Homo sapiens: one gene and its partners. The protein of the gene in region 3 purifies or fractionates together with the protein of the main gene of each other region. This does not show direct contact. Each region holds a gene or a part of one and is shown on either strand. Other genes may lie near its edges.

Region 1 (3,521 bases), on a different chromosome or scaffold from region 3:
AACGAGACTCTACCTCTGAAAAAAAAAAACAAAACACCAAAAAACAAAAAAAAGCAAAATTTAAGATAATTGGGGATATTTGAACAATAGATAGTTGATACCAACAGAGTATTGCTTTAAAACATATACAGTTGACCCTTGAACAACACAGGATTAAACTGTAAGTCTACTTTATATGTGGATTTTTTTCAATAAATATATTGAAATATTTTTTGGAGGTTTGCCAACAATTTGAAAACACTTGCGGACAAACCAAAATTAAGAAAAAGAGTTGTCATGAATGCATAAGACATATGTAGCCTATCTTATGATTTACTACGATAAAATATACATAAATCTATTAATAAAAAGTTGAGATTTATCAAAACTTATGCACACAAACTCTTACAGACCGTATATGGTACCATTCACATTGAGAGAAATGTAAACAAACGTAAAGATGCACACGGTACTCTGGAAGGGACTGTCAATGCTATCGAAGAGAACCCCCACAGAACATCATGGAAGTCTGGAAGGAGAGCACCACTGAAGATGTCATCGTTGTTATAGAAAAAACCATGGCATCATCAAGACTGAAACAATAAACTCCTGGTAGAGAAAACTGTGTCCAGATGTTGCGCGTGACTTCGCAGTATCTACAACAGAGCCCATCAAGGAAATCACGAAAGAGACTGTGGATATGGCAAAGAAAACGTGGAAGGTGAAGGGTTAGCTAACAGACACCACACCAGAGGAATTAAAAGACCACTTGATGGAGATGAGCTGCTTCCAAACCAGTGCCAGATGATGAGGAAGAAGACACTAAAGAAGCAGTGCCAGAAAATAAATTGACATTAGACAATTTGGCAGAAGGGTTCTGATTACTTAAGACTGCTTTGGACTTCCTTTATGAATGGACCCTTCTATTATACCAGCACTGAAACTAAAGCAAATGGAAAGAGGATTGTTACTATACAGAAACATTTTTAGAGAAATGAAAATGCAAAACGGTTCGTAAGGTTTTCCTGTAAAGTTACACCAAGTGTGCCTGCATCTCCTGAATCCCATTCGACTTCCTCTACCTCTGCCACCTGAGATATAGCAAAACCAAGCCCTCCTGTATTTTCTTTCCTCCTCAGCCTACTCAACTTGAAGACCTTTATGATGATCCGTTTTTTTGTTTGTTTGTTTTTTGTTTTGAGATGGAGTCTCACTCTGTCGCACAGGCTAGAGTGCAATGGTGCGATCTCGGCTCTCCACGACCTCCACCTCCAGGGTTCAAGTGATTCTCCTGCCTTATCTTCCCAAGTAGCTCGGATTACAGGCGCCTGCTACCACGCCCAGCTAATTTTTGTATTTTTAGTAGAGATAGGGTTTCACCATGTTGGCCAGGCTGGTCTCAAACTCCCAACCTCAGGCAATCTGCCCACCTCAGCTTCCCAAAGTGCTGAGATTACAGGCGTGAGCCACTGGGCCCGGCTGATCCACTTCTACTTAATAAAAAGTAAACACATTTTCTCTTCTTCACAATTTTTTAAAATAACTTTTTTCCTAGCATACTTCATTGTTAAGAACACAGTATATGCCAGGCACAGTGAGTGGCTCACGCCTGTAATCCCAGCATTATGGGAGGCTGAGGTGGGTGGATCACCTGAGGTCAGGAGTTCAAGACCAGCCTGACCAACATGATGAAATCCCGTCTCTACTAAAAATACAAAAAAATTAGCCAGGCATGGTGGCGCATGTCTGTAATCCCAACTACTTGGGAGGCTGAGGCAGGAGAATCGCTTGAATTCGGGAGGTGGAGGTTGCAGGGAGCTGAGACCTGCCACTGGCACTCCAGCCTGAGTAACAAGAGCAAACTCCGTCTCAAAAAAAGAAAAAAAAAAAAGCACACAGTATAATAAAACATGTAACATACAAAATATGTGTTAATTGACTATGTTATCGGTAAGGCTTCTGGTCATCAGTAGGCTATTAAAACAGGTAAGTTTTGGGAAAATCAAAAGTGGTATGTGGATTTTCCATTGCGGAGGTAGGGCGGGTTAGTGTCCCTAACCCCTGAATTGTTCAAGAGTCAACTGTAATGGTATTACAGTTATGTAAAGAGAGTCTGTCTTTAGAGATATGTAAAGTATATTGTTATCAAAGCAACAATGTATCTAGTTTAGATTTGTTTTGTATTATTACATTATAATATATAATTATTCATATGAGGCCTCTACCATTATACCATAAATCTCTAGAGGGAATGGACTTTTAAAAAGATAAAGTATTTCCAATACCTGATTTGCAGAAAACCATTAATAAATGCTTACTAAATGCAACCACTATCAAAGGGTTTTTTTTTTTTTTTTTTTTTTTTTGAGACAGAGTCTTGCTCTGTCACCCAGGCTGGAGTGCAGTGGCACAATCTCGGCTCACCACAAGCTCCACCTCCCGGGTTCATGCCATTCTCCTGCCTCAGCCTCTGGAGTAGGTGGGACTACAGGTGCCCGCCACCACGCCCAGCTAATTTTTTTGTATTTTTAGTAGAGATGGGGTTTCACTGTGTTAGCCAGGATGGTCTCCATCTCCTGACCTTGTGATCCGCCCGCCTCGGCCTCCCAAAGTGCTGGGATTACAGGCATGAGCCACCGCGCCCGGCCCCTATCAAAGGGGTTCCTAACACACGTATGTTCTTTTCCTTTATCCTTACCTCCTCTTTCTCTCCCCATGTTTTAAAGCCTACATAACAGATACTACTTGGCCCTATGGTTGGTCCCTTGCTTAGAAATACTAATTCTGAGCCACATAATTAGCTAACCACATGATCCAGCATTATACAACGAAACACTTCAAAAAACCAACACAAGTTGGGCGCGGTGGTGCACACCTCAAGCTGCCTCTAGTTCCAGCTAATGCAGAGGTTGAGGCAGGAGGACCACTTGGGCCCAGGAGTTCAAGGCTACAGTGAGCTATGATCATGCCACTGCGAGACCCTCATCTCAATGAAAAAACAACAAAACCACAGCCATGTTATTTCAAGAGTCAGGTAAGTATCAAACCAATGCTTATGAACAGGAAAATTATGCCAATCTGAAAATATGTGGAAAATCTGCTTGGCATTTTATCTTCCCCTAAAGTACTAATATTTCCAAGCCTGTCAAGTTCCCCAAATGAAATGAAAACCCTCCCTTACCATATTGACATGTATGATGTTATGGGACTTGACTTAATCTAAGAATTCTGAAACTGCTTCTCACTAAAATTCAACATGAAAAAAGAACACCCATACCATCACTGCTAATAAGACTTTTTTTTTTTTTTTTTTTTTTTTTGGAGACAGGGTCTTGCTCTGTTGCTTGAGCTAGAGTGCAGTGGCACAACCATGGCTCACTGAAGTCTTCCCAGGCTCAAGTGATCCTCCCACCTCAGCCAGCGTGCACTACCATACCTGGCTAATTTTTAATAAATTTTTTGTAGAGACAGGGTCTCAGTTGTTGCCCAGTCTGATCTCAAACTCCCGCACTCAATCCTCTCGCCTCAGCATCCCAAAGTGC
Region 2 (3,521 bases), on a different chromosome or scaffold from region 3:
ACCAGACTCGTTACTTCATTAGAAGATGATTTTGATGAGGAATTGGATACTGAGTATTATGCAGTTGGAAAGGAAGATGAGGAGAACCAAGAAGACTTTGATGAGTTGCCATTACTTACCTTTACAGATGGGGAAGATATGAAAACTCCAGCAAAGTCTGGCGTTGAGAAATATCCAACAGATAAAGAGCAGAATTCAAATGAAGAGGACAAGGTTCAGCTAACTGTGCCCCCTGGCATCAAAAATGATGATAAAAATATACTAACAACCTGGGGGGACACTATCTTCTCTATTGTCACAGGAGGTGAAGAAACAAGAGATACGATGGATTTAGAGAGCTCTAGTTCAGAGGAAGAAAAAGAAGATGATGATGATGCATTAGTCCCAGATAGCAAACAGGGGAAACCACAGTCAGCAACAGATTATAGTGACCCTGACAATGTAGATGATGGTCTTTTTATTGTAGACATTCCTAAAACAAATAATGACAAAGAAGTAAACGCAGAACATCACATTAAAGGAAAAGGGAGGGGAGTTCAGGAATCCAAGAGGGGCCTGGTACAAGATAAGACAGAATTAGAGGATGAAAATCAAGAAGGCATGACTGTGCACAGTTCTGTTCACAGCAATAACCTCAACTCTATGCCAGCTGCTGAAAAGGGTAAAGACACATTAAAATCAGCTTATGATGATACAGAAAATGACCTAAAAGGAGCAGCTATTCATATCTCAAAAGGAATGCTCCACGAAGAAAAGCCTGGAGAGCAGATTTTGGAAGGTGGCTCAGAGAGTGAATCTGCACAGAAAGCTGCAGGGAATCAAATGAATGACAGAAAGATTCAACAGGAATCCCTGGGTAGTGCACCACTCATGGGAGATGACCACCCTAACGCATCCAGAGACAGTGTGGAGGGAGACGCTTTGGTAAATGGGGCCAAACTGCACACGCTTTCAGTGGAGCATCAACGTGAGGAATTGAAAGAGGAATTAGTTCTTAAAACTCAAAACCAACCTAGATTCTCCTCTCCAGATGAGATTGATTTGCCCAGAGAACTGGAAGACGAGGTTCCCATTCTGGGAAGAAATCTTCCCTGGCAACAAGAAAGAGATGTGGCTGCCACAGCCAGTAAGCAAATGAGTGAGAAGATAAGGCTCTCTGAGGGAGAAGCCAAAGAGGACTCCTTGGATGAAGAGTTTTTTCATCACAAGGCAATGCAGGGCACAGAGGTAGGACAGACAGACCAAACTGACAGCACAGGAGGACCAGCTTTCCTTTCTAAAGTAGAAGAGGATGATTATCCCTCTGAAGAACTACTAGAGGATGAAAACGCTATAAATGCAAAACGGTCTAAAGAAAAAAACCCTGGGAATCAGGGCAGGCAGTTTGATGTTAATCTGCAAGTCCCTGACAGAGCAGTTTTAGGGACCATTCATCCAGATCCAGAAATTGAAGAAAGCAAGCAAGAAACTAGTATGATTTTGGATAGCGAAAAAACAAGTGAGACTGCTGCCAAAGGGGTCAACACAGGAGGCAGGGAACCAAATACAATGGTGGAAAAAGAACGCCCTCTGGCAGATAAGAAAGCACAGAGACCATTTGAACGAAGTGACTTTTCTGACAGCATAAAAATTCAGACTCCAGAATTAGGTGAAGTGTTTCAGAATAAAGATTCTGATTATCTGAAGAACGACAACCCTGAGGAACATCTGAAGACCTCAGGGCTTGCAGGGGAGCCTGAGGGAGAACTCTCAAAAGAGGACCATGAGAACACAGAGAAGTACATGGGCACAGAAAGCCAGGGGTCTGCTGCTGCAGAACCTGAAGATGACTCGTTCCACTGGACTCCACATACAAGTGTAGAGCCAGGGCATAGTGACAAGAGGGAGGACTTACTTATCATAAGCAGCTTCTTTAAAGAACAACAGTCTTTGCAGCGGTTCCAGAAGTACTTTAATGTCCATGAGCTGGAAGCCTTGCTACAAGAAATGTCATCAAAACTGAAGTCAGCGCAGCAGGAGAGCCTGCCCTATAATATGGAAAAAGTCCTAGATAAGGTCTTCCGTGCTTCTGAGTCACAAATTCTGAGCATAGCAGAAAAAATGCTTGATACTCGTGTGGCTGAAAATAGAGATCTGGGAATGAACGAAAATAACATATTTGAAGAGGCTGCAGTGCTTGATGACATTCAAGACCTCATCTATTTTGTCAGGTACAAGCACTCCACAGCAGAGGAGACAGCCACACTGGTGATGGCACCACCTCTAGAGGAAGGCTTGGGTGGAGCAATGGAAGGTGAGATGCCTATGGCCTTGTAGAACAGGGCTGGAGAAGCAGGTGGGTGGGTCGCTGAGGTGCCTCCTATCTTGTGAAGCTCTGTTCAGTTTCCAATGTGCCTAAAGGAGAGGGACAACACAGGGAGGTCCACATGTTCCTTCCTGCCATCTTTCTTTTAGGCTGGAGCATGGAGAAGAATTTCTTGCCGTTTCCCTTAGAATAGTTGAGACTGGTTAGCATTTTCAAAAGGAAACTTTGTAAAAAGCTAAAGAGAAAGATATAAACCAGAAAGTAATATACAAAATACAAATGTCATGTAAAATTATGAAAGGGTTTTATTGAACACAATTTTTCAGTCGTCAGATAACTGCTCTGTAACCATGGATTGACTGGTATAACTTTTAGATCAATGCCTTGGCTAAATTCCTACGTTCTCCCCAATTTTATCTTTTGTGGATGGCTTGTTCTTCCTGTTTCTTGGGAGCACTTACTCCAGTTAAACCCTCCTGGGCCGTAAGGTTCTTGCATGCAGATTAATCAAGATTGGGACAGGGATGCCTTCGAATGCAGTGCTTGATGCGTGGAAGCCATTCAGTTGAATTAACCCCGAGCCAATATCCTGACATAAGCATTCTGATTCCTAGTTCCTTGTTCTATTCTCTGCATCCAGGCTTTTCTCTTTCTTTTCTTTTCTTTTCTTTCCCTTTGCCCACCTGCCCTTCCTTCCTTCCTTCCTCTTTCTTTTTTTCTTTTCTTTTTTTTTTTCTTAAGACAGGCTCTCACCCTGTCACCCAGGCTGGAGTACAGTGGCATGATCATAACTCATTGCAGCCTCCAACTCCTAGGCCCAAGCGAACCTCCCATCTCAGCCTCCTAAGTGGCTAGGACTACAGGCATGCATCACTGTGCCCAAATAATTTTTATTTATTGTAGAGACAGGGTCTTGGTATGTTGCCCAGGTTGATCTTGAACTCTTGGCCTCAAGTGACCCTCCTACTTTGGCCTCCCAAAGTACTGGGATTACAGGTGTGAGCTACCGCACCTGGTATATCCAGGCTTTTCAGACAGATGTATCTGAATTGAGAGTACCAAGGGGACAGGAAGCCACAGGAAAACGTATTACTCCAGAGTGCTAATTTTTCCTAAGAAATGGGGGAGGAGAACTTTTTTGCATTTAATTAAAACATATATTTTGGATAAGAAGGCAATATTCAGATGAATTTTCAGGGTAAAATATGAGGCTACA
Region 3 (2,770 bases):
TGTGGATTGTGAAATCAAAATCTGGAGAAATGCTTATAAAATATACTACTAGCTTTTAAGTTTTAAGAAAGAAGAACGTAAGTTGTACAAAGATATTTGTACTTTGACAAACTGAATTTAAATAAACTTTATTTCCTCTCACTATAGTGTGGCTTTAGAATATATCAAGTACAACCTGAATGGACTTTTTGATTTTACATTTCCTATATCACTAAAATACTTAAACACAAAAATAAAATTCCACTCCTTTATTTCTTCTTACACCTGCCATTGTCTCTAATTCTAAAGAGAGAGCTATAGATTTCTGCAGTTCTAGAGGTGAAGATAGAGACATAGAGAGGCTGTGAAACACACATACAGCCCTGTTAGGTCTTTTGAATTCACACCTTATTGAAATCAGTGTAGAAGTAGAGTTACCTAAACCTTTATCGCCAATGCACAGCTTGGCCTGTTAAGTTAAATGTGGGTGTCAACCAGTGGAAAAGATCAAAGGACCTTTTGCAGCCTAGCTTGCCAATCTTCCAGTAACAACGAGGTGCTACCAATAGGCAGACTGTGTCTAGAGTCATGCATGGACAAGAGGAAAGTGAAAGTTGAATACTCTCTTCTCAATGGCATAGCTGGACTTGATTAAGTATTGACTCATAGAAGAGACATGTATGTTTCCCGGGGCTACCCCTTCATAGCTGCATTTAAAAATGGTGTTCAGGCCACTATGGCTGCTGTGGTTTGAATATTTTTTTCCCTCGAAAACTCATGTTGAAACTTAACTCCTAATGTAGCAGTACTGAGAGGCAGGGCCCTTAAGAGGTGATTGGGCCATGAGGTCTGTGCCCTCCTGAATGGATTAATCCATTCATGGATTAATGGATTATTATGAGTGGGGGACTGGTGACTTTATATGAAAAGGAAGGAAGAGTGACCTAAGCTAGCATGCTCAGGGTGCACCGTATGTCCCCTGGTCATGTGATGCTATGTGTTACCTTGGGACTTACCTGACAGCTCTTACCAACAAGAAGGCCATCCCAGATATGGCCTCTCAACCTCAGACTTCTCAGCCTGCCTAACTGTAAGAAATTAATTCTTTTTCTTTATAAATTACCCAGGTTCTGTTTTAAGCCTCAGAAAATGAACTAAGACAATGCCCTAGATGAGCTGCCAAAATCTGAGCAGATATGAGCCATCAGAATAGAGACCTGCAGAGGCCCAGGGCACTCAAACATAACTGTGCTTGTCTCAGTCAAACTTAATTGGGAAAAGGAGGAGTAAGAGCAGGCCCTTTCTGACATGCTTTAGCAGAGATAACTTATCAGGGCTAGTTTAAACAAATGTGTATAGGAAAGGATGTTATTTATATATTCTTACAAGAGTGTAAGGGCTCACACATTTACTGTACTCAGATCTGAAAGACAATGTTGCTTCTTGATTTTTTTCTATAATCACTATGACCGTGTTCACGATTCCCTACTCTGCAACTCTCAGCATGCATCATGATGATTCTCTAACACTGTCTGTCACCTTCCTGTATTTCCACAGAGCATGCAAGAACTTCTACAAAACTTCTATACCACACAGAAGCTGAAAGAGACTCTGGGGCACTAAATTCAGATCCTTTCTCCACACAGCAATGACATTTATCAATCTGACTCAGGTGTGGCTGTTGCCCCTTTTTGATATGGAGGGAACACTGAAAGACAGTTTCCTTCTGGAGTTCCAAATGCAATATAGAAAAAAAAACCCTGTGACTCTGGATTTTATTTTAAGTTCTCTAACAAGACTCCTACCTTGAGATCTTAGTCTAGGTAAAGAAAAAAAAAAAAAGGTCATGAAACACAAATGTCCTCAACTGTCATCATTCTATGTTTACTTTCTCCCAATCACATCACCTGAGGTAGAAGAGATTTTTCAGTTGCTATTTCTCTTCGTAATGAATTTTCTTTACATCCTGTCCACACTGCTGGAGATACTAAGTCCCAACCTAAATGATGGAAGGAGCATCTCCCCTCTTGTCTGTGGAAGATATCACATGAACTACCTAATTTTCAAGCATGGATCTCCATATTTCAAAGGAAAGTTTTAAAAATGTTTTTAAAACTTCAAATATCTCACCACAGTGAATTATGGGTAAGGTGATAATATGTTTAATTAGCTTGATTTAATCATCCCACACTGTATACATATGCCAAAATATCATTTTGTATGCCATAATATATATGATTTATGAATTATAGTAATATTAATAAAAGTGTTAAAGCTTTTTCTCTCTTGACAATGCTTGCTTTTTAAGATTATGGCCTGCTACAGACTAGGAAAAAGTCCTGCTCATGGTGCTAAGTGTTTAATATTGACACTATCTTTTTTTCTCTCATAATCCTAATCCCCTCCCTTAACACACACACACAGAAACACACACACACACACACACACAGAGCACATGTAAACAATGAGGGAAATGGGTACATATAGCTAAATATGGGGAAGGTTATAAATGGGTAAATATTAAAAAATAAAAGCACATTAGTATTTTTCAGATATTAGCCCCTTGACATAAACATCTATTAAAGATCTACTGTGTTTAGGACCCTAGTGATATACACTAATTAAAACTAAGTTTATGAAATTTGTACCAAATCCAAGCCTATAAAATTTGGATTATATTTTAAGTGATGGAGAATCAGAATTAAATGGCCTCGCCTACACAAAAGCCACCTGAGTTTGCCAAATTTACATTTCATCTAAGGCCATGGAGACCTTCCTTTAAATAGCCCTG
Region 4 (3,521 bases), about 68 Mb from region 3:
CAGTGGATTCCTGAAATTGAGGATAATACCGAAGTCTCTCTATATTTTTTCCTAGATATATATACCTATGATATAGTTTAATTTATAAATTAGGCACAGTAAGAGATTAACAATGACTAATAATAAATTAGAACACTTGTAACAATATACTGTAATAAAAGTTATATGAATGTGGTCTCTCAAAATACTGTAATATTTTTGACAATGGTTGACTGTGGTAACTGAAACCACAGAAAGCAAACTTGCAGATTAGTGGGGGACTACTGTACTTTTTTATCATAAGCTTCTCTGACATTCCTTTTTAGACTTAAGTGTGCCTTCTGTCACCAAATTCTGAGTCTGTGTTCCAATCAATCAAATTAGATTTAGTTCCTCACATCCAGGACATCACTTCTCCAGACTATTTTAATAACGAATTACTGATGAGGCATTGGGAAAAGAACACAGAAGACTTTGATGACTGCAAGGTCATAAGTTCCTCAGTGACTACTGAGTTCTACTAATTTCAAGTTACAATACTAGGCAAATCTTGATAAGTTAGAAGTCAGGAAGCTCCAGAATTAACACATTCTACTTGGCTTTCAGGGGCAAAGACAAAACAAAAAGAATGTATTGAAACTGAACTCCTTAAGAAGTAATCTTTTATATATGCATGTATCAAAACATCATGTTGTATACCATGAATATACATAATTTGTCAACTAAAAAATTTTTAAAAAATTGTTTATTTTCCCCTTGCTTTCTGCTCCTCTGCTTCACTCCTCTGCTGTTCTCCTTTCCTCCCTCCCTCCCCTCATTTTCTCCTTTCCTCCCAGACTTCCCTTCTTTTTTTTTTTTTTTTTTTTTTGAGATGGAGTCTCACTCTGTTGCCCAGGCTGGAGTGCAGTGGTGCAATTTCAACTCACTGCAACCTCCGCCTCTCGGGTTCAAGCAATTCTCCTGCCTCAGCCTTCTGAGTAGCTGGGATTACAGGCATGAGCCATGACGCCCGGCTAATTTTTGTACTTTTAACAGAGACAGGGTTTCGCCATGTTGGCCAGGCTGGTCTCAAACTCCTGACCTCAGGTGATCCACCCACCTTGGCCTCCCAAAGTGCTGGGATTACAGGCGTGAGTCACTGCACCCGGCCGCCTTGTTTTAAAAATACGATTTTCTCGAACTCCTGACCTCAAGTGATCTGCCTGCCTCGGCCTCCCAAAATGCTGGGATTACAGGCATAAGCTACCGTGCCCAGCCTAGAAATACAATTTTCTTTTGCTGTTTACTAAAAATCTGCATACAAGAAGAACGAAGAGCATATCCACCAGCCGAAGCATGTGACTCCTTGGCCTCATTGTTTTAAGGATTTCCTTTTATACATGAATACAAACCAGGATTCCTTGGTTCTGCTTCTAACCTGAAGTGGGCCTGGTTTTCATGAGTACAGAGTGACCTAGCAGAAACAATGCTATGTTTTCCAGGTCGGAAGAGATCACTTACTTTTTCTTGGAAGCACAAGAGTTTAACATAAACAAGCTAGGATATCAAAGGTACACTTCAATCTCAATAATAAAAGTTTATATAGAGGAAGGTCAGTAGGATAATTCAGCTAATAGCAGTTATTTTCCATTTCAGGCATAAAGTAATTTCTATCTAATTCTAGCTCAAACATAAAGGAAAAAAGTGTGTGTATGTACATATAGAGTGGTAAAAAGACTTACCCCTTGTGCGTGAAGATATTCAACGGTTTTAGTTATAGTGAACAGGACAGCACTGGCCTCTCGTTCAGAGAAAAATTTTTGTCTAAGAATTTTATCCAGCAATTCACCTCCTTTCATAAGTTCTGTTACTACATACACATACTTTCCATCATCATATACCTATAAATTTCAACATCAAAATGTAAATATTATTTGAAACTATATGTGCCCAAAACGAAGTTTAAAATATAAAGGAAAAATTAAACTCACTTCATATTCAAGACAAATTTTATTTATTTATTTATTTTGAGACAGACTCTGTCGCCCAGGAGTGCACTGGCACAATCTTGGCTCACTGCAATATCCACTTCCTGGGCTCCAGCGATCCTCCCACTTCAGCCTCTCAAGTAGCTGGGACTATAGGCGCATGCCACCACACCTGGCTAATTTTTGCATTTTTTGTAGAGACGAGCTTTTGCTGTGTCTCCATGAGCAGGGATAATCTGAGGAAATTTGAGTTTTGACAACCCCCAGATAAGGCCTTTGGGCCTATTGAGCATCATTAGCAAGAGAAGACTTAACACTACCTGGGGAGTTCACACTGTTTGCCAACACTTTGTTATAATAAAAGTCAAGAGAGACATAGGCAACAGGGTTATCATGACAGTCCAGGGAAAGATACTTTACTTGTCCTGGGGGTGGCAATGGGCAGGGCAGGCTTCCTGGAAGAAGCAGTGCCTTAGCAAAATCTTATATGTGTGGTAGTTAGCCAGGTAAAGAAAATAGATGGTGTTGGCAACTGAGGGAACTATAAATTCAGACATAACAGCATGGAAAATGAGGCATGCGCAAGAAATTTACATACTAGAACACAGAGCATCAGGTGTATGAGAAAGGGTGTGTGAGAAGTCTGAAAACTACAGAGGAAGGCAGGGTCTTAAGCGGCTGGGGACTTTAGACTGTAGGCAGGGAAGTTAAATGGGTAGTTATGAGTGTTAGATCTCTTTTCTAGTAATGTGGAAGATACTTTGGGGTAGTCTGGAGAGTGAGACTAGTCAATATTGAATATGAACTAATAGTAATATTAACACTGAACATTTAGGTAAGTGTTCAAGTAAGTGCAGATATTAAAAGCAATAATATCGTAAGTACTTTTCTTCTTAAAGCAAAAGTAGAAAAAAATAACTGTACAAACATATCTTTATTGATAAATGAAATTATGCCATATACACATATAAATTGTTTTCAAATCTACTTTTTAAACTTACCATGTTGAATTTTGTTTTGTTTTGTTTTTGTTTTTGAGACAGGGTCTTGCTCTGCTGCGCTGGCTGGAGTGCAGTGGTGCGATAACTGCTCACTGAGGTCTTGACCTGCCGGGCTGAAGCAATCCTCCCACCTCAGCCTCCAGAGTAGCTGCGACTATAGGCATGAGCCACCATGTCAGGCTAATTTTTAAATATTCTTTAGAGACAGGGTCTCCCTATGTTGCCCAGGCTGGTCTTGAACTCCTGGGCTCAAGCAATCCTCCTGCCTCAGCCTCCCAAAGTACTGGGATTACAGGTGTGAGCCACTGTGCTCGGCCTGGCTAATTAAAAAAAAATTTTTTTTTGTAGAGATGGAGATCTCACTGTGTTGACCTGGCTGGTCTTGAACTCCTGGCCTCAAGTGATCCTCCTGCCTTGGCCTCCCAAACTGCTGGGATTACAGGCGTGGGCCACTGTGCCCAGCCTATGATGAGTTCTTTGTCTACCACATGATTTTTGAAAATACACTACTTTCAATGTGAGTTAGACAACTGATTCAAATGATCCATATTAAAGAATCTACTTACATCCTTTA

Evidence for each region.
Region 1: the proteins of KLHL4 (region 3) and ARIH1 purify together in Homo sapiens (affinity purification with mass spectrometry, with the first as the bait; one large-scale study listed by BioGRID). This does not show direct contact.
Region 2: the proteins of KLHL4 (region 3) and MIA3 purify together in Homo sapiens (affinity purification with mass spectrometry, with the first as the bait; one large-scale study listed by BioGRID). This does not show direct contact.
Region 4: the proteins of KLHL4 (region 3) and RPS6KA3 purify together in Homo sapiens (affinity purification with mass spectrometry, with the first as the bait; one large-scale study listed by BioGRID). This does not show direct contact.

What each region holds. Positions count from the first base shown.
Region 1 is NC_000015.10:72,575,330-72,578,850, reverse strand, and holds part of ARIH1 (E3 ubiquitin-protein ligase ARIH1), read right to left. Parts: intron 1-3,521. UniProt on the Homo sapiens protein: E3 ubiquitin-protein ligase, which catalyzes ubiquitination of target proteins together with ubiquitin-conjugating enzyme E2 UBE2L3.
Region 2 is NC_000001.11:222,628,097-222,631,617, forward strand, and holds part of MIA3 (transport and Golgi organization protein 1 homolog isoform 1 precursor), read left to right. Parts: coding exon 1-2,293; intron 2,294-3,521.
Region 3 is NC_000023.11:87,667,793-87,670,562, forward strand, and holds the end of KLHL4 (kelch-like protein 4), read left to right. Parts: 3' UTR 1-1,536; coding exon of another isoform or gene 1,537-1,602; 3' UTR 1,603-2,258; downstream 2,259-2,770.
Region 4 is NC_000023.11:20,165,889-20,169,409, forward strand, and holds part of RPS6KA3 (ribosomal protein S6 kinase alpha-3), read right to left. Parts: coding exon 3,514-3,521; intron 1,860-3,513; coding exon 1,701-1,859; intron 1-1,700. UniProt on the Homo sapiens protein: Serine/threonine-protein kinase that acts downstream of ERK (MAPK1/ERK2 and MAPK3/ERK1) signaling and mediates mitogenic and stress-induced activation of the transcription factors CREB1, ETV1/ER81 and NR4A1/NUR77, regulates translation through RPS6 and EIF4B phosphorylation, and mediates cellular proliferation, survival, and differentiation by modulating mTOR signaling and repressing pro-apoptotic function of BAD and DAPK1.